Homo sapiens: one gene and its partners. The protein of the gene in region 1 interacts with the protein of each later gene in a pairwise test. Each region holds a gene or a part of one and is shown on either strand. Other genes may lie near its edges. The genes, in order: AHCYL1, PIAS4, SLC23A1 and UACA.

Region 1 (7,291 bases):
ATTGAACATATACTAAACGAAATTGGTTCTTAACCTTAGCCCCTCCTCCCAAATCCTGCAGAAACAATTGGGAAGAGACAGTGATTGACGTGTTGGGAGAAGTCAGAGAGTAGCCTCGGCCTTCCCCCATTTCTGGTGGGAAAGTTGCTGGCTTAGTAGGAACCATGTGATTACATGGCTTTTAGGGAAAGACAATGTATCCTTAAAAAAAAAAACATTTCATGGATTTTCCTTATAAGTTTTCAACTTTTTGTCTTCCTTTTGTATAGCAAATCCAGTTTGCTGATGACATGCAGGAGTTCACCAAATTCCCCACCAAAACTGGCCGAAGATCTTTGTCTCGCTCGATCTCACAGTCCTCCACTGACAGCTACAGTTCAGGTAGGTGTGAATGAACTCCATGTCCTCTCTAATCTCTCTTCCCTGTTTGCTACCAGTGCTCTTCACTTAGCAATCTGAAAATACCTCATGTTATGACTGCCCACCTTTGTGCTGAAAACTGTTAGTGGCTGGGCAGTGGGAATGTTCTGCAGCCAAGCTAGTAGCTGGGGAAGCTTTTGTCGACTCGAGACTTTCTTCCCCCTGGCTGTCTGTGTGTGTGGTCTGTGGCCAGTGCCCAGTTGGTAGGACTGGGCTAGTTCCCATTCCCACATTGATCCGCCCATTTCAAAAGGAAGAAATCAATGCTATTTTGGCTGACAGAATTGGACTTAAAAAAGAAGTGCATTTTGAAGCACGATTTCTTTGTGTAAAATATACCCTGTCACCTATCTCTTTCTTTCTTGTCTCCAAGACTGCTTAGATTGTAACAATAAAATTAGTATTTTGGCTTCTCTTATTTATTAGGTTATTCTTTCTGTTGGAATATCCTCCCCTGTTAGACTCTGGAGCAGGAAAGATTCAGACTACTGTAATGTAACTCCAGCTCTGTTTCTTTTTAGTTCTCTCCTCCTGTCTTAACTCTCTGTAAATAAAGTCTTTTTCTGTTTTGTATTGTGTCTTTCCCAACTATAGAGCATGTATTAGAAAATTAGCATGGAAAAGAATATAGAATCTTGGCAGATGAATACAGGAGAAAACATTAGGGACATCTAATGGGGCATCCAATACAACCTTGTCATTGTTTAACTGAAGACTCATTGTTAAAAGATTAAGAGGTTACAGATTGCTATTAATGTCAGCAGAGATATTTGTACCAAAAGCCATTCATTGTCCTTTGCCAGAATACCTTTTGCATTGTATTATCAACATTAAGGATTAACATAAATGAAAAGCTGTTATATATGATCCTGGAGTGACAGATAAAAAGTGGTGTGTGACAAGCAGGCTAACTGTAGCCAAGAAAGAAGAAAAATTAATTGTGAAAAATTGAGTTATGAGAGGAAGAACGATAAAACGACTGAAGAAGGCTTTTAAAAAGTCTTCAAAGATCTTGACGGCCATGTTACAGAAATGTATTAGAGCCTTTTAAAAAGCTTAGTGATATGGTTAAAATGTCATAGTGGGGAAGATAATCTTTAGTAGTATTTGTGTTAGCTGGACAGGAGGAGGACCTGTACATAGAAGTCAGTCAGTGAGAGAGTCCAGGTATACTAGCAGAAACCGTGATGAGGAAAGTACTCAATTCAGAGAGGAAAGAAGTGATTTGAGAGGTAAGGAATGATTGTTGTATATCCTCTTGCATATCTGTCAGATAAGTGGTATTTTTAGCTTTTATGTGAAACCACTTTTTAAAGTTGATCATTTTGACAGACTTTCCCAGGGCTATCAGTAGAACCAGAGCTGTTTGCCTTTTGTGCCATTTCTTTCTTTCTCTATTCCTTGAGCACAACTTAGTGTAAAATCCCTTGTAAGACTATCTTATCACTTTTGTCTATATCCATGGTTCTCAAAGTGTGATCCTCTGACTAGCAGCATCAGCAACACCTGGTAACTTGTTGGAACTACTAATGCTTAGGTGCCACTCCATACCTGCCAGATGGGAAACTGGCCACAGGGTCTAGCAATATATGTTTTAACAAACCTTCCATGTGATCCTGATAGATGCTTGAATTTGAGAACCAGTGATCTATAGAAATAGCATTCCTTATCTGCCCTAAATTATTCTTCTGTTTTTGCCAGGTCTGGTTCCAATCCAGATGGGACCAAGTACCTCTATTATCTGGGATTACTATAGCTGCAGGTTTATAATCAGTGGTCCCTTGTCATAGGCACTAATAGCACAGTATTGTTAGGGTGGGTGAAAGAGCTGCAACATGGAAGTACCCACAACAGTTTCATTCATACCACCTATTAGAACCTAGAGGAGCAGAACTGAGAGCGTTGTAAAAGGTAGCTCCAATTAAGGGTGTTCCCTTAACTTAAATGAAAGTCCCTTGGGGACTGCACTCTGTAGAGTTGGGGACCACTGAGGTTTTTCTATCCTTGTTTTTTTCTTTCCTGGCTCTAGCTGCATCCTACACAGATAGCTCTGATGATGAGGTTTCTCCCCGAGAGAAGCAGCAAACCAACTCCAAGGGCAGCAGCAATTTCTGTGTGAAGAACATCAAGCAGGCAGAATTTGGACGCCGGGAGATTGAGATTGCAGAGCAAGGTAAAGAAAGGGAGTGGGTTAGGGGACCAGAAACAACCCTCTTGTTGGCCATCAGAATCCACAAACAACTTAAGACTTGAAAGCTGACTTGAAAGTGTACTGGGAAGAAAGACAGTATTATGGACTTTCGGATAAACACTTCTCTCTCTATGGAACTTAAGTCTTGGGATTTTGTTCTCTCTTCCTTCTGTTCTCAGCATGTGGTGATTACACACAGAGTAGTTTCTGTTTTCCTCCTTGCCCCACCCCACCACTGTATTCAAAGATCTACATGGCAGAATTGACAAGTCCTAGATCACTACGTGGTAGTTGGTTATATGGGATCTTACTATAGCTGCCAATGGCAGAGACCCAGATTGCCCAGAAGCAGCTGATGAGGAAGGGTTTTAAGGTAAGGATGTGGTGACCTAGAGTCTTGTTTGGTCCTGAGCACCCTCTGCTGGAGCAGAGTAAAAGTGACTGACAGTTAAATCTTGGTTTCTCTACCCCAGCCACTCCCAGTAAGGTCCTCTTTACTCTTGTGTTGTTTACACATTGAAGGCATGTTCTATACTGAGAGAGAATAGAGAAACCAAACAGACTGACAGGACATGGTAAGACAGCATAGAAAAACAGAAGTTAGTGGTTTCGGCTGAGGGTACAGTCTTTCTGGTCTGATGATTATATATAGGAATCTATTAGCCAATGCCTTAACTATTTTCCTCTCTTCCCAAATGAATGATGAGACTCACCCTTCATTTTGATCAGTTTTAAGGATTTACTTCATTCTCTGTTCAGTCCTCTGTGTATAAAGCTGAAGCAGTAGAGGAAGAGAGAAACTCCAAGTGGTTGCATGACTGCTCTCCACTATTACTGTGCCGTTGAAGCTGCCAGTCGTCATGGAAATAGGCTTAAAGTTTTTCTGCCTCATCTCACCATATCTCAACAGATCCAGACCAGCCCTGGGGCAGGAACTGATGATACTGCTAGTGCAGACCTAGCTCAAATCCTCTGTTCTTTCACAGACATGTCTGCTCTGATTTCACTCAGGAAACGTGCTCAGGGGGAGAAGCCCTTGGCTGGTGCTAAAATAGTGGGCTGTACACACATCACAGCCCAGACAGCGGTGAGTTTGTTGGAAGAAAAGAGGGACTTCTGATAAGGGGAAGAAAGAAATCAATTTTTTTTTTTTCACTTTTCCTTTCCTAACTCGCCAACCTCCAAATGCTAACTATTAATAGGATCTCCCTGTTACACAATAATGGGGTTTTCTGGGTTTTTTTTTAATATGTAAACCCACTTTCAGCAAACTTGACCTAGGAAAGTCTAGATTTGCAAACATATGATTGTTATAAAATGTTATAAAGACTTTTAGAAACCTATGTTTTATGCAAAGTTAAATACCAGTGCACCACCTCGCTGGAGTACACCCTTTTGTAACTTTCCAGTGTAGCACCTGTTGGTGCAGAGTTGATAGGTATTGCTATCTTGATGAGGCTTGCTCTCCATTCCTGGGTGGCCCTTCTCTTCCTCACCCTGTCTTCCTACACTTCTACACAGGTGTTGATTGAGACACTCTGTGCCCTGGGGGCTCAGTGCCGCTGGTCTGCTTGTAACATCTACTCAACTCAGAATGAAGTAGCTGCAGCACTGGCTGAGGCTGGTAAGTTCGGTTTTTTCCCACCAACTTTGCCCCAAAATAGTTATCCAAACATATAACTTTTTTGTATCAAAATTGTCATTACAATATCATATATGTCTAGAGGCTATAAAATTGTGCATGATAAAAACCTCAACAGGAAGAAAGTGGATAATAAAATTAAGATGGATATCCATGGTGGAATATTATGTAGTCATTAAAAATGGCCTTTGAAAATAATCTAATGGCATGGGGTCATGCCCAGTTCTAGTGTTAGTTGAACGAGGAAGAATGTTAAACTATATAAGTGCCATCAATTTTGTGAGAGAGCACAAGTAAGAAGTACCTTTCATATTGATAGTGCATTAAATAATTTGGTATTCAGTATGGCATTGAAAATATATGAGCTATTTGTGAGTTTAATTAAACGTAAAATAATTTTTTATTATTCAGGCCAGGCCTGGTGGCCCACGCCTATAATCCCAGCACTTTGGGAGGCCGAGGCGGGCAGATCACTTGAGGCCAAGAGTTCAAGAACGGTCTGGCCAACATGGTGAAACCCCACCTCTACTAAAAATACAAAAGTTAGCCGGGAGTGGTGGTGTGCGCCTGTAATCTCAGCTACTCAGGAGGCTGAGGTAGGAGAACCACTTGAACCTGGGAGGCAGAGGCTGCAGTGAGCCGAGATCATGCCACTGCACTGCAGCCTGGGCGACAGAGTGAAACTCCATCTCAAAAATTAATAACAATAATAATAATTTTTATTATTCAAATATTCAGAAGAAAATCACCGTGAAGTTTCTTTGAGGACCTCTCATCTTTCTTTCTTTTTTTTTTTTTCTTAAGATGGAGTCTTACTCTGTTGCCCAGGCTGGAGTGCAATGGCGCAGTCTCGGCTCACTGCAACCCCTGCCTCCTGGGTTCAAGTGATTCTCATGCCTCAGCCTCCTGAGTAGCTGGGATTGCAGTGGCATGCCACCACACCCAGCTAATTTTTGTATTTTTAGTAGAGATGGGGTTTCACCATGTTGGCCAGGCTGGTCTCGAACTCCTGACCTCAAGTGATCTGCCTGCCTTGGCCTCCCAAAGTGCTGGGATTACAGGCGTGAGACACCACACCCAGCCGGACCTCTCATCTTTTTAAGATCCTCAGAAAGCAACTTTATAATACTTTTGGGTTTTTTTGTTTATTCTTTTCTGATAAGTGTTCACTGCAAAAAATTTAGGAAGTTCCCCAAAACCCTACAATCCCACTACATAGAGTATTTGATTAATGTTTTTCCTTTTCCTTTCTTCTACTTTACATAAATTCTAATATGTATACAGTTTTATAACCTAAATACAATATTTTCAGACGTAGTTTTCCATGTCACTGAAAACTTTGACAGCATCATTTGTAATAGTCATTCATATGGCTATGTGATTTCACCTCACTATTTTCCTAATGGAGAACATTTAGGTTGTTTCAAGATGTTTACTAATATCAATAATGCTCCAGTTAACAACTTTTATTAATTCCCACTTCATTTTATCTCCTTCTAAGTATAAAATTAGTCCAGAGAAAGGAACACTTTAAGGTTCCAAACTACTTTTAAAGCAAAAATTCCTTAATTTCTTAACCTAATTAATTTCTGAACCAAAAGTGATTCTTTGACTTTTGGCTCTGAATTTTTTCCCTTCTGAAATTGTTTCTTTTGCCTTTTTCTCTTCACATGGATCTCAGAAAGTGATTTGGTACAGGACACTCCTCAAAGGAGGAATCAGCTGATTCATTTCTGTCTCTACAGGAGTTGCAGTGTTCGCTTGGAAGGGCGAGTCAGAAGATGACTTCTGGTGGTGTATTGACCGCTGTGTGAACATGGATGGGTGGCAGGCCAACATGGTAATAATGCATATACATCCTACACTTTGACAATAGATTTATTTCCTTTTTTTCCCTCAAAGCATGGTTCCCTAAATATGTTTTGGATGTTTGGTCTTATGCACTGACTTTGTTGCTAAAGTGTTTAGCTTGATACCTATTCAGAATGGGTCTGAGTACTGAATGGAAAGGTGGGGGAAGGGTAAGACTAGCTGAACACATGGCTCAAACACACCAGAACAAAATAGTGGTGCTTCTTTGGAGTAGGATTCTGCTTTCTTTCCTTCCTGCCCCAGTTCTCCTTTTGCATTCAAAGGGGCTATATATTTCAAGACTCTAGACTAAAAATGAGTCTGTGATTAGCTTAATACTCATCACTGTAGCCTAAAGCAAACCTAGGAATCCTTTTAACCATTTTACACCAACAAATTTGACTGTATTTCCACTCTCTAAGCCTGCTCTAGGGAGCTCTGAGGAGTACTCTTCCAAAACATACAGGGCTCTCTTACTAGTACAGAAAGTGGGTTCAAAGTTCCCCCCAGCCCTAGCAGCCTGAATGCCCATAGAAGTCTTCTGGCTGTTCTATAGATCCTGGATGATGGGGGAGACTTAACCCACTGGGTTTATAAGAAGTATCCAAACGTGTTTAAGAAGATCCGAGGCATTGTGGAAGAGAGCGTGACTGGTGTTCACAGGTAACAGATTCTGGAGTAGCTGCCCCTTGTGTCCTTGCCTCAGCAAACTCTCCTGGTCTCTGTTAGGCTTTAGGACTGTGTTTCAGACTTATAACTAAATGGGAATATCTTCATTAGATAAAATTTTGAGTTTTTACTTTTGAAAAATCAAGTTGATCCTAGAAGGAAGTTATTTCAGGTTCTAGTTCATACATTTTTCTCTCCCATTTACTCCATTGAGTGATTCTCAACTAGTGTTGAGGGGCGGGTAGGGAATAAATGTATCTTGAAAAACTGTATTCAATATTGTATTATCATTTTATATTTGAAATATGAAAAACAATCCTATTGTAAAACTACATGTTATACACACTACAAAAAGTAAAACTGGGCAAAATATTCTTGGCTTGTTGGAATACTGAAAAGATATCTGAAAGAGTGTTTCTTGGGGGCACATTGCGCATGCTTACTCACACACACACGGAACCATATCAGAATCATTGATAGTCTTTGTTTATCAGAAGTAGGCATGGGTTTCTATTGAA
Region 2 (7,291 bases), on another chromosome or scaffold:
TTTATTCTGGTGTCCAGCATGAGCAGGAAGTTAAGTCAGGTGTTTTTTTGTTTTTTTTTTTTGAGACTGAGTGTAGCTCTTGTTATCCAGGCTTCCAGGCTGGAGTGCAGTGGCGCGATTTTGGCTTCCTGCAACCTCCACCTGCTGGATTCAAGCAATTCTCCTGCCTCAGCCTCCCAAGTAGCTGGGATTACAGGCGCTCACTACCACGCCCGGCTAATCTTGTATTTTTAGTAGAGATAGGGTTTTGCCATGTTGATCAGGCTGGTCTCGAATTCCTGACTCAGGTGATTCACCCACCTCAGCCTCCCAGAATGCTGGGATTACAGGCGTGAGCCACTGCGCCTGGCGGAAGTCAGGTTTTTTCCCAGTTATATAATGAATACGGGGTTTCCCCCTCCATACCGTGGATAGTGAGGTGGGATGGTTCCCTCGGTGGGGCCGTCCTGGGCACTGCAGGCTGCTGAGCAGCATCCCTGGCCTCCACCTGCTCTGTGCCAGGAACACCCCTAACTCTGACAACCACAGATGTCCCCAGACACAGCTCGGTGTCGCCTGGGGCAGGGTCGTCCTCAGATGAGGACGGTTGAACTGTGGCAGGTGAGGGGCCAGTGTGGCTGCCCTGCGCTCTGCTCCTCCCTCAGTCTCTCCGAGGCTGTACTGCCTCCAGCTGAGACAGATTCCTGCTGGGCAGGCTAATGGTAGGTGCTGGGCCCTTAGGACAGGGGAGGCCATTTGCCCAGGTCACCCCTGAGTCCATGGCAGGGCTGGGCCGGGCGCCCCCATTTAATGCCTAGCTTCTCGTGCCCAGCCGCTTCAGACCCACCGCCCCCACCTGCTGTGGGGCCAGGTTCCTGGGGCCTCCCAGCCTGGCCCTCACACCTAGTAAGGGTTCAGATCCAGCCGAGCCAGGCTTGGCCATGGAGGCCTCTCTGCCTGGGTGACCCAAGGTGGCGACCTCGTCTTTCTCAGCCTCGTCTTCCTTGTCTATGTACCTGGGTCAGCACAGCCTCCACCTGCACTGGGTCCCTGCTGCAGAGTGCTCAGAGCCAGCCACACAGTATAAAAAAATCAGTTTGGGCTGGGCACGGTGGCTCACAACTGTAATCGCAGCCCTTTGGGAGGCCAAGGCAGGTGGATCACGAGGTCAGAAGATCGAGACCATCTTGGCTAACACAGTGAAACCCCGTCTCTACCAAACATACAAAAAAATTAGCCGGGTGTGGTGACGGGCGCCTGTAGTCCCAGCTACTCGGGAGGCTGAGGCAGGAGAATGGCGTGAACCCGGGAGGCGGAGCTTGCAGTGAGCCGAGATCCTGCCACTGCACTCCAGCCTGGGCAACAAAGGGAGACTCCGTCTCAAAAAAAAAAAAAAAAAAAAGTTTGGTTTTCTCCTCAGAAAGCTTCTGGACATTTCTTTTTCTTTTTCTTTTTTTTTTTTGAAATGAAGTCGCTCTGTCGCCAGGCTGGAGTGCAGTGGCGTGATGTCGGCTCACTGCAACTTCTGCCTCCCAGGTTCAAGCGATTCTCCTGACTCAGCCTCCCGAGTAGCTGGGACTACAGGTGCGCACCACCACGCCTGGCTAATTTTTGTATTTTTAGTAGAGACAGGGTTTCACCATGTTGGCCAAGATGATCTCAATCTCTTGACCTCGTGATCCACCCCACATCTGCCTCCCAAAGTGCTGGGATTACAGGCGTGAGCCACCCTGCCCATCCCACATTTCTTTTTCTTATGTCGAGATATGATTTGCATACCATAGAATATACAGTTTTTAAGGGTGTCATCGAGTGGGTTCTCGTGGATCAGTAGGTATCGCAGCTCCCACCACTGCCTAGTCTCAGGGCAGTCATGTCCATCCCCAGCAGCTGCCACCCTTCATCCACTGGCCCCCACGCATCCCCTCCTGTCTGTAAATGGGTCTGTCCTGGACATTTCATAGAAGTGGAATCACATACTATGTGGCTTTCGTTTATTATTATTATTTAAGACAGAATCTCACTCTGTCGCCCAGGCTGGAGTGCAGTGTCGCGATCTCAGTTCACTGCAATCTCCGCCTCCCAGGTTCAAGTGATTCTCTTGCCCCAGACTTCTGACTAGCTAGGATTACAGGCGTGCACCACCACACTCAGCTAATATTTGTATTTTTTTTGAGACAGAGTCACACTCCGAGGCCCAGGCTGGAGTGCAGTGGCACGATCTTGGCTCACTGCAAGCTCTGCCTCCTGGGTTCACGCCATTCTCCTGCCTCAGCCTCCCAAGTAGCTGGGACTACAGGCACCCGCCACCACGCCTGGCTGATTTTTTTTTTTGTATTTTTAGTAGAGACGGGGTTTCACCATGATAGCCAGGAGGGTCTCGATCTCCTGACCTTGTTATCCGCCCGCCTCGGCCTCCCAAAGTGCTGGGATTACAGGCGTGAGCCACTGCACCTGGCCTAATTTTTGTATTTTTAGTAGAGACGAGGTTTCACCATATTGCCCAGGCTTGTCTCGAACTCCTGACCTCAAGTGACCCACCCACCTCCGCCTCCCAAAGTGCCAGGGTTACTGGCGTGAGCCACCTGCCTTGTGTGTCCTTTCGTGTCTGGCGTCTCTCACTGGGTGGGACATCCTCACGGTGCACCTGTGCTGAGGCCTGGGTCTGAGCCTGGCTCCTTTCCATGGCTGGGTCGCGTCCCGTGCGTGTTGGTCCTTCGGTCTACGGAAGGACACTCAGGATGCTGCTAGTTTGTGGCTGTTGTGGTCAGTTCTGCTGTGAACATCCACGGATGCGTCTTTGGGTAGATAGACTTTTTCCTCTTCTTCTGGGGGCGTTTCTTGTTAAAGTTTATCCTCAGGTGTTACTGGTTTTTGTTTTTTTTTTTTTGGAGAGTGTTTCTCTTTGTTACCCAGGCTGGAGTGCAGTGGTGCAATCATAGCTTGCAGCCTGTGCCTCCATGGGTTCAGACGATCCCCCTGCCTCAGCCTCCAAGCAGCTGGGACCACAGGTGTGCACCACCACGCCTGGGTAATTTTTTGTGGAGACAGTTTCACCATGTTGCGCAGGCTCGTCTCAAATTCCTGGGCTCAAGAGCTCCGCCAGCCTTGACCTCCCAAACTGGGTGTTTTCTTGCCATTGTGAGCCAGCTGCTAGATTCCCGCATGCACGTTTTAGCTATGTTTCTTCGCAGGGAGAGGCACCTGGCTGCCCTCTCTGGTTCAGGGTTTTGCTGTGGATTCTGTTGCATTTTCCAGGGAGGCCAGCCCCTCTCCTGACCTCACAGCCACTCCTCTCACCCAGCCCGTACAAAAGAGTCCTGGGCCTCAGTTTCCCAGCTCTGGGGGAGGGAGCCTTGTGGTGTGGCGGTCTCCACCTTGTCGGGTGGGCTGGGGTCACGCCCTCCTCACTCAGCTCTCCTTTCCTTTCCTCTGGTTTGCTCCACACCCACAGGGAACTGCAGCCCGGAGTTAAAGCCGTGCAGGTCGTCCTGAGGTATGCCCAGGTGTGCCCGCGACCCCAGGGCTGGACCCCCAGCCACCCGCCCCTCCCCGCCCCCCAGTCCTGGCCCAGGCCCTTCTCAGTCTCCCCTGCTAACAGCAGAGCCCAGCTCTCCTCACCTGCTGTCTATCCCTGTCTGGGGATACATCACCATCCGACCCCCACTCAGGCCACACCCGGGGGCCCTGATACCCCCCGTGTCACATTCTCCGGTGCCCCCATCACTGCCGCCTGGCTACCACTCGTGTACCCCCGCAGCAGCCTAGTCCCTCCTGTGCGCCCCCTCCCCGCCCCATGGTCCCTGTTGTCGTTGCAGAATCTGTTACTCAGACACCAGCTGCCCTCAGGAGGACCAGTACCCGCCCAACATCGCTGTGAAGGTCAACCACAGCTACTGCTCCGTCCCGGTGAGCATGCCCCGCCCCCGCGTCGGCTGCACGGGTTTGGGGGGCGTGGAGGGAGGGTGGGGGCCGTCGGATTTCCCAGCCGCTCTTGGCTCGAGGCTGAGCGGCCCATCTGCTTGCAGGGCTACTACCCCTCCAATAAGCCCGGGGTGGAGCCCAAGAGGCCGTGCCGCCCCATCAACCTCACCCACCTCATGTACCTGTCCTCGGCCACCAACCGCATCACTGTCACCTGGGGGAACTACGGCAAGGTGAGTGCGTGCCCGGGTGCCCACCCTGCCCCCCAACCCCGGCCCCGTCCTGCCAGCCCTGACCCCTTCCTTCTGTCCCCAGAGCTACTCGGTGGCCCTGTACCTGGTGCGGCAGCTGACCTCATCGGAGCTGCTGCAGAGGCTGAAGACCATTGGGGTAAAGCACCCGGAGCTGTGCAAGGCACTGGGTGAGCAGCTCAGGCCACCTCGGCCGAGGGGTGCCAAGTCCACCCTGGAAACCCGCCCTGTGCTGGGTGAAGCGGGGGGCCCTGCACCCGGAGGAGATCGATCAGGGGCCGCCTGTCACTCTGGGGGTCCATGGCCCCCCGGCTGTGGCTGGGGAGGTCTCTGGAGGATACGGATGGCAGAGGGGGCACTTGGCAGTGGGAGCTGCTGTGCGGAGGCCTGTGGGGTCACACCTCGTGTTGCTGGCCCCAGGTGCTCCAGCCCACAGGGGTCTAAGCAGCAGAAGAGCTGGAGCCTCATTCCGGGACAGCACAGAGGCCGGGAGGGGTGAGAGGAGCACAGAGGGAGCTGTGGTCTAAGCAGCCCCTTCTCGTTGCCTCAGCGGGGCCGAGGGTGCTGCGGGACCTGGCGGGTCACGGACGGCCAGGGTCGTGGAGGCAGTTGCTGTGGGAGGAAGACGGGCGGCGGCGGTCTGACCTCACGTTGGTGAGGCCCCGTTTAATCTTTTTTCTTTTTCTTTTTCTTTTTTTTTTAGAGAGTCAGGGTCTCTGGGAGGTAGAGGTTGCAGTGAGCTGAGACTGCATCGCTGCACTCCAGCCTGGGCTGCAGAGCGAGACTCCACCTCAAAAAAAAAAGTGTCTCGGTGTATCGCCCAGGCTACAGTGCAGTGGTGGGATCGTGGCTCACTGTAGCCTCTAACTCGGGCTCAAGCCATCCTCCTGCCTCAGCCTCCTGAGTAGCTTGGGACCACATGTGTTCACCACCACACCCAACTAATTTTTTTTTTTTTTTTTTTTTTTTTTTTTGAGACAGAGTCTCACTCTGTTGCCCAGGCTGGAGTGCAATGGCACGATCTCGGCTCACTGAAACCTCTACCTCCTGGGTTCAAGCGATTCTTCTGCCTCAGCCTCCTGAGTAGCTGGGACTACAGGCATGTGCCACCATGCCCGGCTAATTTTTTGTATTTTCAGTAGAGACGGGGTTTCACCTTGTTAGCCAGGATGGTCTTAAGCTCCTGACCTCGTGATCCGCTTGCCTCGGCCTCCCAAAGTGCTGGGATTACAGGCGTGAGCCACCACGCCCGGCCCCAACTAATTTTTTAATGTTTCGTAGAGATGGAATCTTGCTGTGTTGCCCAGGCTGGTCGTAAACTCCTGAGCTCAAGCAGTGCACCTGCCTCAATCTCCCAAAGTGCTGGGATTACAGTCTTGGCCACTTTCGCACCTGGTCTCTTTTGTCCTTGTAACAATGAAAACAATTTTTTTTAAGTGACACGCAGAGCAATTTTAAAAGAAAGCCTGCCGGCAAGGCGCAGTGGCTCACACCTGTAATCCCAGCACTTTGGGAGGCCGAGGCGGGCAGATCATGGGGTCAGGAGAGCAACACCATCCTGGCTAATATGGTGAAACCCCATCTCTACTAAAAATACAAAAAATTAGCCAGGCGTGGTGGCAGGCACCTGTAGTCCCAGCTACTCGGGAGGCTGAGGCAGGAGAATGGCGTGAACCCAGGAGGCAGAGCTTGCAGTGAGCGGAGATCGTGCCACTGCACTCCAGCCTGGGTGAGAGTGTGAGACTCCATCTCAAAAAAAAAAAAAAGCCTGCCAAGCCTGGTAGGCAAATCAGTCCTCACCCCAAGCAGCCACGCAGCACAAAGCCAGCGTACAGCAGTTAGCCCTGCCTGGCGGCTGTGTGGCCTCAGAAAGTCGCTGGCCTTCTCTGGTGGCCACTGTCTTCAGGAGAATAGATCTGAGCCATCTTGAGGGCACCTGGACATCTCTCTGGACCCCACATGCTTGGGGCCCAGGCCTCAGTGGGCTCTGCAGGCCTGTCTTATGGAGAGGCTAGGCCTAACCTGGAGTCATTTGGAGCTGGGAGTGGGAGTCAGGCAGGTGGGTGAGGACTGGGACCACCTGCCAGGCTGACGAGAGGGCGGTTCTGGGCCAGCCGGGTTTGCTCGCACCCCCTTCCCGAATGGTGGCTGTTTTCAGGTGGAATCTGGGCACCACCCCAGCCCCTTGGCAGAATGTGGGCCAGAGGGTCTTCCAGCTGCCCCTCCTAGCTGCCCAGGCCCCTGTGCCCAGGCCAGAGAGTTCCCCATGAGCACTGCCCTCCTGGCACAGCCAGGCCCAGGCCTCTGGTCCCTGTTCCTGACCACCAAAGGGCACCTCCTTGCCTGGGTGTCCAGAAGCCTGGAGCAGTGCTGGCACTGCCAGGGGCCTGCGAGCCCCATCGTGTTGAAGCCTCCTGTGCACTCCAGCCCCCCAAGTCAGGAAAGATAGCCGGCAGCACCCCCTCTGCAGAGCAGGACGTGGAGGGTGAGGGGTCCCTCCACGGAGTCCGGCATCCTTGGCCAGCCTCCTCCAGGCTCGGGGATGGAGGGCCTGGCTATGTACCCGTGTGACCAGTGGGGACACTGAGGCACAGAGTGGCAAAGTTAGGGTTCTGTGTCCTGGGTTACCCCGCCCCACCTCCCTCTTCCCTCAAAGGGCCCTTTTTTCAACCGCCCCCGACCTTCCCTGCCTGTGGGGACATGGCCAACTTGAGGGAGGAGGCTGGGGCCGGGCAGGCCTCTTCTAGGCCCACGGGGTGGGGGCCGGGCTTAACTCCTCAGTGACCAGAGCCCGCAGTGCTGGGGGCTGTGGGGTCAGGCTTCCTCTCCGAAGGGGTCTCCTGCTGCTTCCCACAGCCGGCCCCAGGCTCAGCCTCTCTGTCACTGGATTTCTTTCTTGCTGCACCTAGGAAGTCCTCACCTTTGCCTCACTTGAACCCTTCCTGCTGCGCACGTCTCTCCATACACAAAGGAGGGAGAGTTTGCTTTAAAATCAGATGGGCACCTGCATCCCCTCCTAGCTGCCCCTTTGCCAGGCTTGAGGGTCCACCCGGGCACCGGGTAGCCAGAGCTGGGATCCAAGGATGGAAACTCAGCTGAGGAGTGAGCGGCTGGGGCAGCCTTGGCTCAAGCAGGGG
Region 3 (7,715 bases), on another chromosome or scaffold:
GAGGCTCCTGCTGGGCTCCCCTAGGCTCTCCAGGACATGTTTGCACTACTTGGGGGAGTTTGGAGAAGACCAGATCTATGAAGCCCACCAACAAGGCCGAGGGGCTCTGGAGGCATTGCTATGTGGGGGACCCCAGGGGGCCTGCTCAGAGAAGGTGTCAGCCACAAGAGAAGAGCTCTAGTCCTGGACTCTACCCTCCTCTGAAAGAAGCTGGGGCTTGCTCTGACGGTCTCCACTCCCGTCTGCAGGCAGCCAGGAGGGCAGGAAGCCCTTGCTCTGTGCTGCCATCCTGCCTCCCTCCTCCAGCCTCAGGGCACTCGGGCCTGGGTGGGAGTCAACGCCTTCCCCTCTGGACTCAAATAAAACCCAGTGACCTCACTTCTTTTCTCTGCAAAAGGTGCTTGTGGGGCTGGGAGTGCAGACATTGGTGTTTCTGCTGATGTCCCTTGTGAAAAAAAAAAAAAAACTCTCAAAATCAATTTTTTTTTTTTGAGACAGTCTCACTCTGTCACCCAGGCTGGAGTGCAGTGTTCTTGGCTCGATGCAACCTCCACCTCCCAGGTTCAGGCGATTCTCCCACCTCAGCCTCCTGAGTAGCTGGGATTACAGGCACCCACCATCATGCCCGGCTAATTTTTGTATTTTTAGTAGAGACGGGATTTCACCATGTTGGCCAGGCTGGTCTTGAACTCCTGACCTCAGGTGATCCGCTCGCCTTGGCTTCCCAAAGTGCTGAGATTACAGGCATGAGCCACCGCGCCCGGCCTTCAAAATGCTTTTTCTATTCTCTCACTCGACAACAGCACAGAAGATGGCTGTGACCGAATGCGTGGGGGCTTTCCCCCACACACCAGGCAAGCAATTCTGCAGCTGACACCAGCTGGGTGCCCTCCAAAATTCAATTCTGGCACTATCTACCTGGAGATAGTGTCAGATCCCACAGGCTGAGGGCTCAGTCCACCATTCTGTCCCCCATTCAGACACCAGTTCCAACTCCAGGCCTCTGGAGCTTCTGGCCTACTGGCTTCAAGATGAGGTTCCCACAACCCCCTCTTTTGAGTTCAACTAATTTGCTAGAGTGGTTCGCAGAGCTCAGAGAAACGTTTACCAGTTTATTATAAAGGATGTTACAAAGGATACAGATGCAGAGATGTGTAGGGCAAGGTATGGGGAATGGGCTCGGAGCTTCCATGCCCTCCATGGATGCAACACCGTCCAGGAACCTCCACGTGTTCAGCTATCCAGAAGATCTCTGAACCCTGCAATTTTGAGTTTCTGTGGATAATTCATTACGTAGGTATGATTCATTAAGCCATTGGCCATTGGCGAACAACTTACCCTCCAACCTGTCTGCCCTCCCTTGACTGGGGATGGGGGGTGAGGGGAGGCTGAAATCCTGCCTTGGTCTCTCTGGTGACCAGCCCCTGTCCTGAAGCTACCCTAGGGGCTGCCAGCCATCAGTCAATCATTAGCACACAAGAAGACATCATTTTGGGGATTCTAAGATTTTAGAAATTGTACTCCAGGAAACAGAGGTCAAAGACCAAATATATATTTCACAATATTACATCCCTCCTACAGAAGGCCAAATTTGCATCCCTACAACTTCCAGAGGTAAGAGGGAGCCATCAATGGTGTGGTGATGTAATCGCCCAAAGGGTTCACCTTGCTCAAGCCTAGACAGAGCCGATTGCTCAAGACAGGGGAATTGCAATAAAGACTAATTAACGCAGAGCTGGCTGTGCAGGAGACCAGCGTTTTACTATTACTCAAATCAGTCTCCCCAAGCATTCAGGGAGCAGAGTTTTTAAGGACAACTTGGTGGATGGCGGGGAAGCCAGTGAGCCAGGAGTGCTGATTGGTCAGGACTGAAATCATAGGGAGTTGAAGCTGTCTCCTTGCCTTGAGTCAGTTCCTAGGTGGAGGCCACAAGTCCCAACGAGCCAATTTATGGATCTGGGTGATGCCAGCTGATCTATCAAGTGCAGGGTCTGCAAAGTATCTCAAGCACTGATCTTAGGAGCAGTTTAGAGAGGGTCAGAATCTTGTAACCTCTAGCTGCATGACTCCTAAACCAAAATTTCTCATCTTGTGGCTAATGTTGCTCCATCCTACAAAGGCAATCTAGTCCTCAGGCAAGAAGGAGGTCTGCTTTGAGAAAGGGCTGTTATTGTCTTTGTTTTAGACTATAAACTAAAAACTAAGTTTCTCCCAAGGTTAGTTCAGCCTACACTCAGGAATGAAGAAAGACAACTTGGAGGTTAGAAGCAAGATGGAACTGATTAAGTTAGATCTCTTTCACTGTCTCAGTCATAATTTTGCAAAGGTGGTTTCAGTGACATCCCAGGTCTTCAGAGCCTTCATGAGAAAAGAGAACCAAGGAAAACTGTGCACGCAGGCCACCTTGTGGCACACCTATTCCAGCCACTCCATGCTATCTGCACCCCTCCGAGAACACACGTCTCACTGGGTCTACACCCAATGGCTGTTCATTTTCCACACTCTGCCTTTGACCCCAGCTGGTATGGATGGGCCCTGGGTTTCTGACCAGCCAGATTCAACATTTTGGTTCTCAGTCCTGCTTTCTCTGGAAATTCTTCTGGCTGGGGCTTTTCCTTAGTAAAGAAGCCCTGGACCCCACCTAGGTCTGGGAACTGGAGATCGGTGGCACCAGAACTTTCAGTTTCGTTTGTGAGTGTCTCTGATCTGGCCAAGCCCTGGGAGAGAGACAGAACATTCTAACCCTCATTTTTAGAAATATTTTTATTTTGCACGAGAGCCATGTGCAGGAAGACAATCTAATCCCCCTTTGACAGATGCAGAAACCGAAACTTAGACAACAGAAGGGGTTTGGGCCAAGTCCCTGGCTGAGTAGTAGTAGGGCTGGGAGGGGATTCAGACTTAGGGGACCGGAGAGGCGGGCTGCTGGGGGAATGGAGGTGCCTGGGGCAGGCCCTGGCCACTCCAGCTTCCCTGGGAGCTGCACTCAGCCCCCTCCATCCTTCACCTGTTCCAGGACCTGCCTGAAGCCCCACCATCCGTGGCCTTCACTCAGGAGAGAAACCCTAGACACCAGGAGGAAAGTCAGGGCCCAAGAAACCCACTAAGCTTTCAGGACAGGGTGTGGAGCCGGGCACCCATGACGTGGACCTGTGTTTCTGTGGGGTGATTAGAGAGGCTGCATCAGCTCTGGGTGTGTGGGCCCCTTCATGCTACTGTGGATCTGGGACCGTGTTCTCCACCTTGTTCTCTATGCGTGTTGTGTGGTTTGGGTTGAATTGAGTGTCCATGGAGCCGTATCTGCAGGGGGTCGGGCTTGGTCTCCACAGCACCCTGGGGAGTTCTGGGAGGAGAAGTTGGAGAGAAAAGTGCTGGGGAGTTGCAGAGGCTTCAAACTGGTCCAGCAACTTTGGAAATTGGGAGCAGTAGCCAAGAGGGAGAGGAGAGGACAGGCGGACAGAGGAACAGTGTGGACACCGGCAGGCGGGCGGACTCAGTGCTGTGGCATGAAGCTGCTGCCCAGCTGGAGAGCGGTGCTGCCCCTTGGCCCTTCAGGCAGGGCCTGGCCATGGGCACAGCGACCCAGAAGTAGGTGGGCTCTAGAGTGCTGGGGCTGGGGCAGCCCAGAGGGGAACAGAATGGGGACCTCAGGCCCAGCCCTCACCAGCTGAGGAGCCTGAGTTCTTAGGGCCCCTCCCCATGTCCCCCTCTGCCATCTCAGGCCCTAGGGCCAGGCTGGGCTGGGCCTGCCAGGAGGGGAGACAGGCTGGGCATAGGACTGCCTTCCTGGGCTAGGTGATGGGCAGTCACACAGGGCTTGGTGCATAGAAAGGCCCCACGCTCCATCTAATGCTCCTGCTATCTTTAAATTCTTTATACTTTTGGAATAAAGGCCTCACATTCTTACTTTGCACTGGGTCCCAGAAATTATGTGGCTGGGAGGGGAAAGGGATCTGTGCCCTGACACAGAGTGCAGACCCGGCTGGGCCAGCCTAGGCAGCTCTGCCTGCAGAGGCCCATCTGCTGCCTGCCTCAGGGACCCTGAGGGGTGCAGGGTGGTGAGGGCAAGGCAGCTCAGACCAACCTGAATTTTAGGATTGGTTTCTGCAAACTTGCTATCTGCATGGCTTGGGTCAAATCACATCTACTGAATCTGTTTCCTTCGCTGTTAAAGGGGTTAATACCGCCCAGCACAGGGGTTACTTGGGACAGTGCAGATCCATGTTTCTTGGCACAAGGCCAAGGCCATTCCTCAATAACGAGAATGACTATGATGATGATGATAATGATGAACTAGTTATTAATCAGTGGGGAAGGGCCTCATACAGGGGGTTACATAATAAGTGCCTGTTTCCACTCCCTCTTTCTCCGCTCACCTGGGGCTTGGTAAACTTCTGGTCCTCACCCCCTCGACTCTGGCCCTCTCTTGGGAAACAAGAACAGGTCCAGCGCCCAGGCGCAGATGTGGGCAGGGAAGGGCACATGTGGCAGAGGCTTGGGTGGCTTTTACTGTCCTAGTGAGAGTTAATACATTACCTCTGCCCGGGCCCCCCTTTCGCAATCCAGAGCTGGGCATCTGGTTACAGATTTACTTCAAACAATGCCTGATATGTGGAGTAAAGTCCTCCTCCTTGGCCTTTGTCAAGTCATCCCCTCTTCTCCTCAGGAACTGCTCAAACCTGTGCCCCAAAGATGAGGGCCCAGGAGGACCTCGAGGGCCGGACACAGGTGCTGGGGGCTGGGGGTGGGGGCTAGGGGGGGCAGGGGGGGTGGGGGGCTGGAGGGCCTGTGCAGGCCTTCTTCCTGGAGGCCAGAGATAAACGTTCTGATGAACTTGATAAGAGTGACTGTCCCAAATTGAATGTGGCAACTGGGGGATGGGTGGAGGTGGGGGTGAAGGAGCCTGCAGCTTTGGGACTGGCTGACTCCAGGTTGGGGTTCAGGAGAGGCCTAATCTCCCGGCCAGTGACACCCCAAGGATCTCCAGGGGGCAGAGGTGGGACCGGATTGGACTTGTCCACAGTCTTGAGCCCTCTTGGCCCCCTCTCCTGTGGTCTCCAAGACTTCTGACTTAAGGGTCCACTTCCCTGGCTAAAATGGCAGGTCCTGAGGGCTCTAGAAGCTGGCACAGTAGACTCATCCCTGCGGGAAGCAATGCAAAGTGGGAGAAAACTGTGGCCAGGCCAAGTGGCACCCGGGTGGATGGACTGTTGGGGAGGGCGGGAACCCCGCTCTCAGTTGCTGACAAGCCACTTGGGCTGCCTGATTGATTCTGGGGCAGAATGGATTTTGCCTGTCCCCATCACTTCACCCTAAGCTACTTATCTCTGCTGCCTCCAGCATGAAACCACCAGGGACCCCTCGACCCCGCTACCCACAGAGCCTAAGTTTGACATGTTGTACAAGATCGAGGACGTGCCACCTTGGTACCTGTGCATCCTGCTGGGCTTCCAGGTGGGTCCCCCAGGGCCTCCCCGCCCTCACTCTGCACACTCCCCGGGGACTCCAGCCCCTCCCTGGCCAGCAGGGAGTATCTTGGGTAACAGGAAGAAAAACCTGAGGTCAGCACAGTGGCTGTCAGCAAGCAGGAGTCGGGAAGAGGCTGAATCCTGAAAGAAGATGAACTCCCTGGGGGAGTGTGACGCTTGCCAGGTGGGGTGTTGGTGACAGGGAGCAGAGCCGACTCCACGGAAGCCGCAGGAATATCTTGAGTGGAAATTAGTGACCCCCAGAGTGGTCAGCAGTAGCTCTCTGGGAATCCCTTGTGGGGACTGCCAGTCCTGGGCAGGCAGCCGGTTCCAGGCCCGCTGAGGCAGGCATGAGGACACTAGGTTGTCCCCTCTCCCTGGAGCTCTGGGGTCCTGCCTCATGCACTCTGCTGTCTCCCTCTGCCCAGCACTACCTGACATGCTTCAGTGGTACCATCGCCGTGCCCTTCCTGCTGGCTGAGGCGCTGTGTGTGGGCCACGACCAGCACATGGTTAGTCAGCTCATCGGCACCATCTTCACGTGCGTGGGCATCACCACTCTCATCCAGACCACCGTGGGCATCCGGTGAGCCGCCCAGCCCCCCAACCCGTCCCCCGCCACCCCTCCACTGTGATCCACACAGCAGGAGCAGGTGGGCTCCCAGAGGACACTGGTGAGACAAAAAAGCCGCTTTCTGCCTCCACCTGCTTCTCCTATCCCAGGCCAGCCTTAGAGCTGGGCAGCGTGGCCCCAACCCTGGGAATCTTGATCTAGGCACACTTCAAAGACCAGGCATCTGCAAGTTTAAGGGATTGTACCCTCGCTGGCTCTCCCCTCTTTTTTTTTTTTTTTTTTTTTTTTTGGAGACGGAGTTTTGCTCTTGTTGCCTAGGCTGGATTGCGGTGGCGTGATCTCGGCTCACCACAACCACCACCTCCCGGGTTCAAGCGATTCTCCCGCGTTCAAGCGATTCTCCCACCTTAGCCTCCTGAGTAGCTGGGATTACAGGCATGCGCCACCATGCCCGGCTAATTTTGTATTTGTATCTGCCCACCTTGGCCTCCCAAAGTGCTGGGATTACAGGCGTGAGCCACCAAGCCTAGCCGGCTCTCCCCTCTTAAACCCCATTCTGAATATTGCCCAGATGGCAGCCCTGAGCTAGCTCCCAGGGTTGGTGCCAGCCTCTTCGACAGCCCACCCTCCCAGGGCCCCACGCTCCCGAGTGCACAGCCCTAGGCCTGGGTGGCATTTGAGCTGTTTGAGCAGCGGGGGACAGGGGAAGATTGTGAGAGAAACCTGGATGCGGGAACTGAGGTGTCCACTTCCGGGCAGGTGCCCCCTCCTCACAGTGCAGGAGCTGGTGGTGGGAAGGGGGCAGGTTTTGAGCTGGGGGCTCCATTTGTTTTCTTCCTTGGGCAGCCAAAATGTTAGAGATGGTCTTCCCTGGGGCCTCAACGATTTCCATCTGCCCTTGTCCCTTGTGTCTCTGTCACTCTCTCTGTGCTCTCCCTTCCTGATCTCTCCCCGCATCTTTATCCCTCCTCCCCACCCGCCCCTCCCCACCCCTGTTGCTTTGTGCCTCTCCTCCAGGCTGCCGCTGTTCCAGGCCAGTGCCTTTGCATTTCTGGTTCCAGCCAAAGCCATACTGGCTCTGGAGAGATGGAAATGCCCCCCGGAAGGTGGGTACACTTCTGGGGTCTGCACTGGGGAAAAGGGGAGGCCCAGAGACCTGGAGGTCTGAGCAACTGTCCCGGGTCAACACCAGGGTGCAGCCATGGCAGCATCTTCTCTCCCTCTCTGTCTCTGTACCTGGTCCGTGTGTGTATCCCTGACTCTACCCCCAGAGGAGATCTACGGTAACTGGAGTCTGCCCCTGAACACCTCTCATATTTGGCACCCACGGATACGGGAGGTGGGTTTGCATGTAAGCATAGAAGAGGCCGGGTCCTGAGGAGGGGCTATATGGGAGTGAGGGTGGCCGCTGAGTTTGGGGATTTGAGGAGGTGGTCCAGGAGCTTTGTTCCTGCTAGCAGCAGCCAGGTCATGACCTTTACATGGTGACTTACGGCTGATGTTTGCCCTTCCAGGTCCAGGGTGCAATCATGGTGTCCAGCGTGGTGGAGGTGGTGATTGGCCTGCTGGGGCTGCCTGGGGCCCTGCTCAACTACATTGGGCCTCTCACAGTCACCCCCACTGTCTCCCTCATTGGCCTTTCTGTCTTCCAAGCTGCTGGCGACCGAGCTGGC
Region 4 (7,291 bases), on another chromosome or scaffold:
AAAATACCTAGGAATCCAACTTACAAGAGATGTGAAGGACCTCTTCATGGCAAACTACAAACCACTGCTCAATGAAATAAAAGAGGATACAAACAAATGGGAGAACATTCCATGCTCATGGGTAGGAAGAATCAATGTCATGAAAATGGCTATACTGCCCAAGGTAATTTATAGATTCAATGCCATCCCCATCAAGCTACCAATGACTTTCTTCACAGAATTGGAAAAAACTACTTTAAAGTTCATATGGAACCAAAAAAGAGCCTGCATCGCCAAGTCAATCCTAAGTCAAAAGAACAAAGCTGGAGGCATCATGCTACCTAACTTCAAACTATACTACAAGGCTACAGTAACCAAAACAGCATGCTACTGGTACCAAAACAGAGATACAGACCAATGGAACAGAACAGAGCCCTCAGAAATAATGCCACATATCTACAACTATCTGATCTTTGACAAACCTGACAAAAACAAGAAATGGGGAAACCATTCCCTATTTAATAAATGGTGCTGGGAAAACTGGCTAGCCATACGCAGAAAGCTGAAACTGGATCCCTTCCTTACACCTTATACAAAAATTAATTCAAGATGGATTAAAGACTTAAATGTTATACCTAAAACCATAAAAACCCTAGAAGAAAACCTAGGCAATACCATTCAGGACATAGGCATGGGCAAGGACTTCATGTCTAAAACACCAAAAGCAATGGCAACAAAAGCCAAAATTGACAAATGGGATCTAATTAAACTAAAGAGCTTCTGCACAGCAAAAGAAACTACCATCAGAGTGAACAGGCAACCTACAGAATGGGAGAACATTTTTGCAATCCACTCATCTGACAAAGGGCTAATATCCAGAATCTACAATGAACTCAAACACATTTACAAGAAAAAAACAACCCCATCAACAAGTGGGCGAAGGATATGAACAGACACTTCTCAAAAGAAGACATTTATGCAGCCAAAAGACACATGAAAAAATGCTCATCATCACTGGCCGTCAGAGAAATGCAAATCAAAACCACAGTGAGATACCATCTCACACCAGTTAGAATGGCAATCATTAAAAAGTCAGGAAACAACAGGTGCTGGAGAGGATGTGGAGAAATAGGAACACTTTTACACTGTTGGTGGGACTGTAAACTAGTTCAACTATTGTGGAAGTCAGTGTGGCGATTCCTCAGGGATCTCAAAGTAGAAATACCATTTGACCCAGCCATCCCATTACTGGGTATATACCCAAAGGATTATAGATCATGCTGCTATAAAGACACATGCTGCTATAAAGACACATATGTTTATTGCGGCACTGTTCACAATAGCAAGGACTTGGAACCAACCCAAATGTCCAACAATGATAGACTGGATTAAGAAAATGTGGCACATATACACCATGGAATACTATGCAGTGATAAAAAAGGATGAGTTCATGTCCTTTGTAGGGACATGGATGAAGCTGGAAACCATCATTCTCAGCAAACTATCGCAACGACAAAAAACCAAACACTGCATGTTCTCACTCATAGGTGGGAACTGAACAGTGAGAACACATGGACACAGGAAGGGGAACATCACACACTGGGGCCTGTTGTGGGGTGGGGGGAGGGGGGAGGGATAGCATTAGGTGATATATCTAATGTTAAATGACGAGTTAATGGGTGCAGCACACCAACATGGTCCATGTATACATATGTAACAAACCTGCACGTTGTGCACATGTACCCTAGAACTTAAAGTATAATAAAAATAATAATAAATGTAAACAAGTAATCAGTTATTATTCTATTTTCTTGATGAGAAAACCAAGAGTTAAAGGGAATGTTCCTTGCCACTTCCTTGTAAGTGGCAGGACTTAGACCAGACCTTCCAACATTAGCTTCTAAATCCAGGCACTTATCCTTCTATATAAGGTATAAAACCATAGGAATGCCTCTTTATTCACAAAGATAAAAGATTATTTTAAAACCTCCTTTAGTTTAGTGGACCAATATTTTAGAGAGCACCCTGCAATGAGAAAGATGCTGGATTTGGAGTCAGCCAGTTCCAGGTTTATACCCCAGCTGAATGACCCCAGGCATCAAATATGTTATTCTTTGTTTCCTTAAGAATTAAATGGAGGGAATAAATCTGCTTTGTGAGATCATGATGAAGATAAAGTTTATAGATAAAGTACGTAAAATGTTTAATATGGTGCCTGGTGTATAGTAGGCATCAAATAAGTATTATTACACCACCAGTATAGGTAACTTTTCGCATATAAAAATAATTATATTCTTGGATCCGAACATAGCTACAGAGCACTTTAATTTCTAAATGAGCCTTACAAACTAACTACAGGGAGCCAGCACATATTCCTGCAAAGCCCCGTGTGCCTGGTTACTCACGGCCAGCTGTTGCTCCAGAGATTTCACTTGGTGCTGCAGAGTGTCAATCAGCTGGCTCTGCCTCTTGGTGGGGTTCCCACTTGTGTAGGTGAGTTGGGAAAGGCCATTGAGTGCCTGTTTTAATCTTTCCACATCATTAAGCAGTTCAGTTATCTTTAAAAAAATGTTGTAGGAGAAATATATTATTCACTTATCATGTACAATGAACATCTTTGTACAGAAATCATTCCTTTTTGGAGACAGAAGCTTTATCTTTATACACCAGAAAATTGAGGTATGAATATTGCCAAGACTGTTACCAAGGATGTATACAATATGTAATTTATAATTAAATCCCTCTCCAGAAATTATTTACAAAAGCAATACCAAATTAAGAATAAATATTACATATATCCTAAGATGTGAGTATAAACATAGTCTTACTTTTAGCTAATATATAAGCATCTACGAAGGCACATGAACTATCTTCCAGGTAACATATGGAACACAGGAAGGGAAGGGGGATTCCCAGCAACAAAGTGTGAAAAGTAAAAGGGTGTGGCCCGTGTAAGTCTAGGATTAACATATGTTCCTTTTTCCTTTCAAGAGTTGTATTATTTAAGACCACTTTGTTGTAGAGAGAAAAAAAACAAGGAGGCTTGTTTATAGGAATAGGAAGTGCCTAGAAACATAGCATTTTTCCACCCTGCTTTAAAGTCAGACAGAGTCAACTTGTATGAGCTTGGCTAATTTACTTTTCTGAGCCTTAGATTCCACATTGGTGAAAGGTGGACAATCTTTCAGAGTTAAGAAAATCAGGTTGGGCACAGTGGCTCACACCTATAGTCCCAACACTTTGGGAGGCTAAGGCAGGAAGATTGTTTAAACTCAGGAATTCAAGACCAGCCTGGGCAATAGAGCAAGATACCATCTCCTCCCCCACAAAATTTTTTATTGAAAAATAATAATAGAAAAAAAACAAAGAAAATGAAATGCAATTACATGCACCCGCTCAATAAATGGCAACAAGTAGATATTAATAATTAACTCTTATATATTACTATATATATTCATAGGTACCTTCTGAACAAGCTTAGAGCATTTAAATTCTCAATCACAGAGATGGTGTGCCAGAGGACAGTATGTACAAGTACTTTCCACTGGGGAGGGCAGTCTGTGTCTGTGTTTACTCCACTGTATCCCCAGCACATGACATGCAGAAGGCATTTAATCATTACATGTTGAATGGATAAAACTGCAGCCAATCTTTATATGTCATATCCATAGTAAAAACTTTATGCAACATCAGTGTCAAAAATATTGTTGAGTACCTATTCTGTAAATTGTACCATGAGAATTAAAGCTAAGATGGAAAGTTAAGTTATAAACCCTGCTCATAAAAACTGATTGGGAAGATCAACTACATAATTCTAACAAGGTAATATAAATGTTTTAAATGGATGGCAAAGCCACAGTAAAACATCCACCTTAGAGGAGGAACTGTTTACTATAGACTAGATTGGACAGTGAGGGCTTTAAGAAGGAGGATAACATGTTAATGAATGTATAGGATTCAACTCAGTAGAAAGGAGGGAAAGGACATTCTGGGTGAGGGGATGTAGACTTTCTAGTCTGTAGAAAGACATGAGCAACAGAACATAAAATGAATTGGAGGGCTCAGTTTACTACTATGGGTGAGTACCGAGATCAACTCTAGATGCTCCCCAGTGTTCTTGGTTTCTTGCAGCCCAGAAAGAGAGCTTCCCCACCACCCTCTTCCCCATCTTTCATATGCCACAAACCCACTGGCTTTTGACTCTTCATGTATGAGACAAGTGAGCCTTAAGTCTCCCCATCGTTCCTGAATTCTTGGCTAGAACAGCTAAAGAAACAGAAGGAAAAATGCTTTTGACTTTTGTGTTACTTCACTTTTTTTTTCAATTCGGAATTTTTGCACGCAAGTTGCTAAACTGGAAAGGGTCACTTTGTTAATACCTGTGTCTACTTTCCTGTGAGATTCTGTGGTAAAGAGCACTGCTCTGGGGTTTCCAACACATAGCCGTGCAGACTACTTTGTACCTACCTTATTATCTTTTGCTTCTATTTGTTTAGCAGATTCTTGTATTCTTCTTTGTAACTCTGTGATTGTTGTTAAGGACTTATCACATCGTTCCTTCTGATCCTTAATTTCTTGCTCAATGCTGAAATGCAGTAATTCCTTCTCATCTTTTGCAGATATTTCCTTCTTTTTGGCATGCAAAACTTCCTCACATACTTCCTCATACTTTCTATTCAGATTGGCCAATTTTTCATTTAAGCTAGAAATCTGTGTCTCCAAATCACTTTTTGTTGCTTTATATTTAGACAAGTCAACTACCTCTCTAGTCTCTAATTTTTTTAATGCTTGTTTAGTATTCTGAACCTCCGACTGAAGTTTGGAGACTTCTTCCATTTTGTTTTGGCTTTCTTCTTCCTTTTCTCTCAAGCTGGCTTTTATGATTCCAACTTCTTTCTCAAATGCTTCTTTAATCTGCAAATGCTCTGCCAGGGGTACAGAAGAGTTCTTTTGATTCTCCAACAATTGATGCAGTTTGGTCACTGTCTGCTGCTCTTTCTCGTAACACCTTTGCATACTCTTCAGTTCTTCCTTTAGATTTTCAATTGTGCCATTAAGAGATTTTTTCAGAGCCTCAACCTGTTCCAATGGAACATGTTGTTTTTGCAAAAGATTTTGCACTGCAAGTATCTCAGAAGTCTGTTTGGCATTTTCTTCTACTAGCTTCTCTTTCACATTCTTTACTTCCGTGTATTTCTGTGACAAGTCTTTTAACTGTTTGTTTAGCTCGTCTGTTTTTCTGCTTAATGCTCTTTCCATTTCATGAGACTTCTCAATGAGAACTGTCTTATCTCTCAAATCTTTCTGAAGGGTAAAAATCTCCTTCTTTAACTTGTCATTCTCTTGCTTGTTTTTCTTGACTTCTTCTTCACTGACACTATACTTTTGTGTCTGCTCTGATAACTGGTCTTTTAGTTCTTTCTCTGTTGCTTTAAATTTTCTCTCGCACTCCTCAAAGCTGACAATTGGGGCGTATTTTACCTTAATGCATTCTTGTATTGTGTCGAGCTCCTTCTTCTGGGCTTTAATTTCGGCATGCAGTGTCACAATCTCTTCTTGGCCTTTTCTGTAGTTGGCCAAGATTTCAGCATTACTATCCTGCACCTTTCTCATGCTCTGACTTAGCGAGCTCATCTTTGCCTCGTGCTCTGCCAGGCTGATGTACTCAGCTTTTATTTGGTTCTGAGTGTTTTCCAGGTTTCTTTTTAATATTTCATTCTTATCTTTTATTTTTACAAATTCCTGATTTATATCTTCAAATTTTTTCTTCACATCTAATAATTCTCTGTTAGTTTTGGCTAACGTGTCATTCAGTGTCATTTTAACCTCTTCATGGGTTTTAACTGGCACATACTGATTACTCATCATCTTCTTCAAGTTAGTGTTTTCAGATGTGAGAGCGTGTATTTTCTCCTGGTCTTCACCACATTTTTTCTTAAGTTCAGACAGCTGTTTCTTAAGTTCAACAATATTGGATTTCAGAGCTATTATCTCTTTTTCATGTTTCTCAGGAGGTACAAACACAGTTTCTAGGCGGCTTACATCCTTACTTAAGCTGTCATTTTCCAGTAGCAATTTCTCCATTTCCAACTTCTTTTCTGTATATTTTTGTGTTACATCTAAAAGCTTTCTATTAAGATCATCAATAATTGCATCATGTGACTTTTTCATGTCTTCACTTACTTTTAAAGGAACATAATGATTTTTCATTTCAATTGTTAAGTTATGTGCTTGCTCCTTGAGGAGCTTATTATCCAAATAAACTTTTTCAATTTCCTTTTGTAGTGTCTGATTTTTCAATGTTAACTCAGTGATCTTCTTCCCAAGTTCTCCTGATTTCTGTTCTAATCTGCTCTTAACCTGTTCATGTTCCTCTGGTTTGACGTGCTGAGCAAGCTTGGCCTTAACATTCTCAAGTTCTCTCTTTAACTGTCTAATTTCACTAAGTGATTTTTCATGTTCTCTTTCCATTTCTACTAATTTTTTTGCTTTCTCATTCACTTCATTTGATAATGAGCTCTTCATGTTTTCAAATTTTTCAGCTGGAATGGAAAGGGCCAACTTCGCTGACAATTCTTTTGCCTGGCCTTCCATCTCTGTGACCTTTCTTCCTTTCTTCTCTCGCTCCATTTCACACATACTAAGTTCCTTCTGTAATCGCTTATTTTCTTCTATCAGCTTGCCTTCATCCCTCTTAAACTCTTCTACTATCATCTCATTTTGTTTGATTTGGTTTCTTAATTTCCCCACTTCTGCTGAAGCACCTTCATATTTTACTTTCAAGTCTTTCAACTGATCCTTCAGTTCCTCGGTTAGTCTGTGATTCCCTGAGGCTGCTTCACTTGTTAAGTGTTCTTTAAGGGCAAGAAAATGGGTCTGCATTTGTTTAACTTTACCTTCTGACTCATACATCCTCTTCTGCACATCTTTTAATGCATCTTCTAATTGCTTTATCTGTTCATCTGAATCCTCCTTGACCCTTTCACATTCTAATGCTAAAGCTTTGCATTCTGCCACTTTGTGTGCCAGTTCATTTTGGAGCTTCAGTCGGTCTTGTTTTGCTGACTCACAGAAAGTTCGCATTGCTTCTAACTCTTTCTTTAAAATTTCATTTTCAGAGTATGACGTTTGACTGGGTAAAGATAGTTCCAGAGGTCTTAACATAGATCTGCTTTGCATATGGGCTGGTATACCTGGGGAAGTACACTGAAAAGAAAAAAAAAAAGACATCAATCACAAAAGCCTAAATGAGACATTTACTATACTTATTTGCCAAACTTAGAGAAAGTTAGCACATCATCAGGAATCAAAG

What was found.
Region 2: the proteins of AHCYL1 (region 1) and PIAS4 interact in binary tests that used the Homo sapiens proteins (3 or more experiments, as listed by UniProt).
Region 3: the proteins of AHCYL1 (region 1) and SLC23A1 interact in binary tests that used the Homo sapiens proteins (3 or more experiments, as listed by UniProt).
Region 4: the proteins of AHCYL1 (region 1) and UACA interact in binary tests that used the Homo sapiens proteins (3 or more experiments, as listed by UniProt).

The regions. Positions count from the first base shown.
Region 1 is NC_000001.11:110,008,765-110,016,055, forward strand, and holds part of AHCYL1 (S-adenosylhomocysteine hydrolase-like protein 1), read left to right. Parts: intron 1-269; coding exon 270-381; intron 382-2,449; coding exon 2,450-2,593; intron 2,594-3,597; coding exon 3,598-3,698; intron 3,699-4,132; coding exon 4,133-4,235; intron 4,236-5,998; coding exon 5,999-6,093; intron 6,094-6,660; coding exon 6,661-6,767; intron 6,768-7,291. UniProt on the Homo sapiens protein: Multifaceted cellular regulator which coordinates several essential cellular functions including regulation of epithelial HCO3(-) and fluid secretion, mRNA processing and DNA replication.
Region 2 is NC_000019.10:4,024,713-4,032,003, forward strand, and holds part of PIAS4 (E3 SUMO-protein ligase PIAS4), read left to right. Parts: intron 1-3,433; coding exon 3,434-3,475; exon of another isoform or gene 3,476-3,477; coding exon of another isoform or gene 3,478-3,485; intron 3,486-3,797; coding exon 3,798-3,888; intron 3,889-4,007; coding exon 4,008-4,136; intron 4,137-4,218; coding exon 4,219-4,324; intron 4,325-7,291.
Region 3 is NC_000005.10:139,380,231-139,387,945, reverse strand, and holds the start of SLC23A1 (solute carrier family 23 member 1), read left to right. Parts: upstream 1-4,648; 5' UTR 4,649-4,666; coding exon of another isoform or gene 4,667-4,692; coding exon 4,693-4,728; intron 4,729-5,340; coding exon 5,341-5,454; intron 5,455-5,896; coding exon 5,897-6,054; intron 6,055-7,059; coding exon 7,060-7,148; intron 7,149-7,313; coding exon 7,314-7,381; coding exon of another isoform or gene 7,382-7,393; intron 7,394-7,556; coding exon 7,557-7,715. Other genes in the region: MZB1 (marginal zone B- and B1-cell-specific protein precursor), read left to right, coding at 25-181.
Region 4 is NC_000015.10:70,662,278-70,669,568, forward strand, and holds part of UACA (uveal autoantigen with coiled-coil domains and ankyrin repeats), read right to left. Parts: intron 7,186-7,291; coding exon 4,447-7,185; intron 2,538-4,446; coding exon 2,385-2,537; intron 1-2,384. UniProt on the Homo sapiens protein: Regulates APAF1 expression and plays an important role in the regulation of stress-induced apoptosis. Promotes apoptosis by regulating three pathways, apoptosome up-regulation, LGALS3/galectin-3 down-regulation and NF-kappa-B inactivation.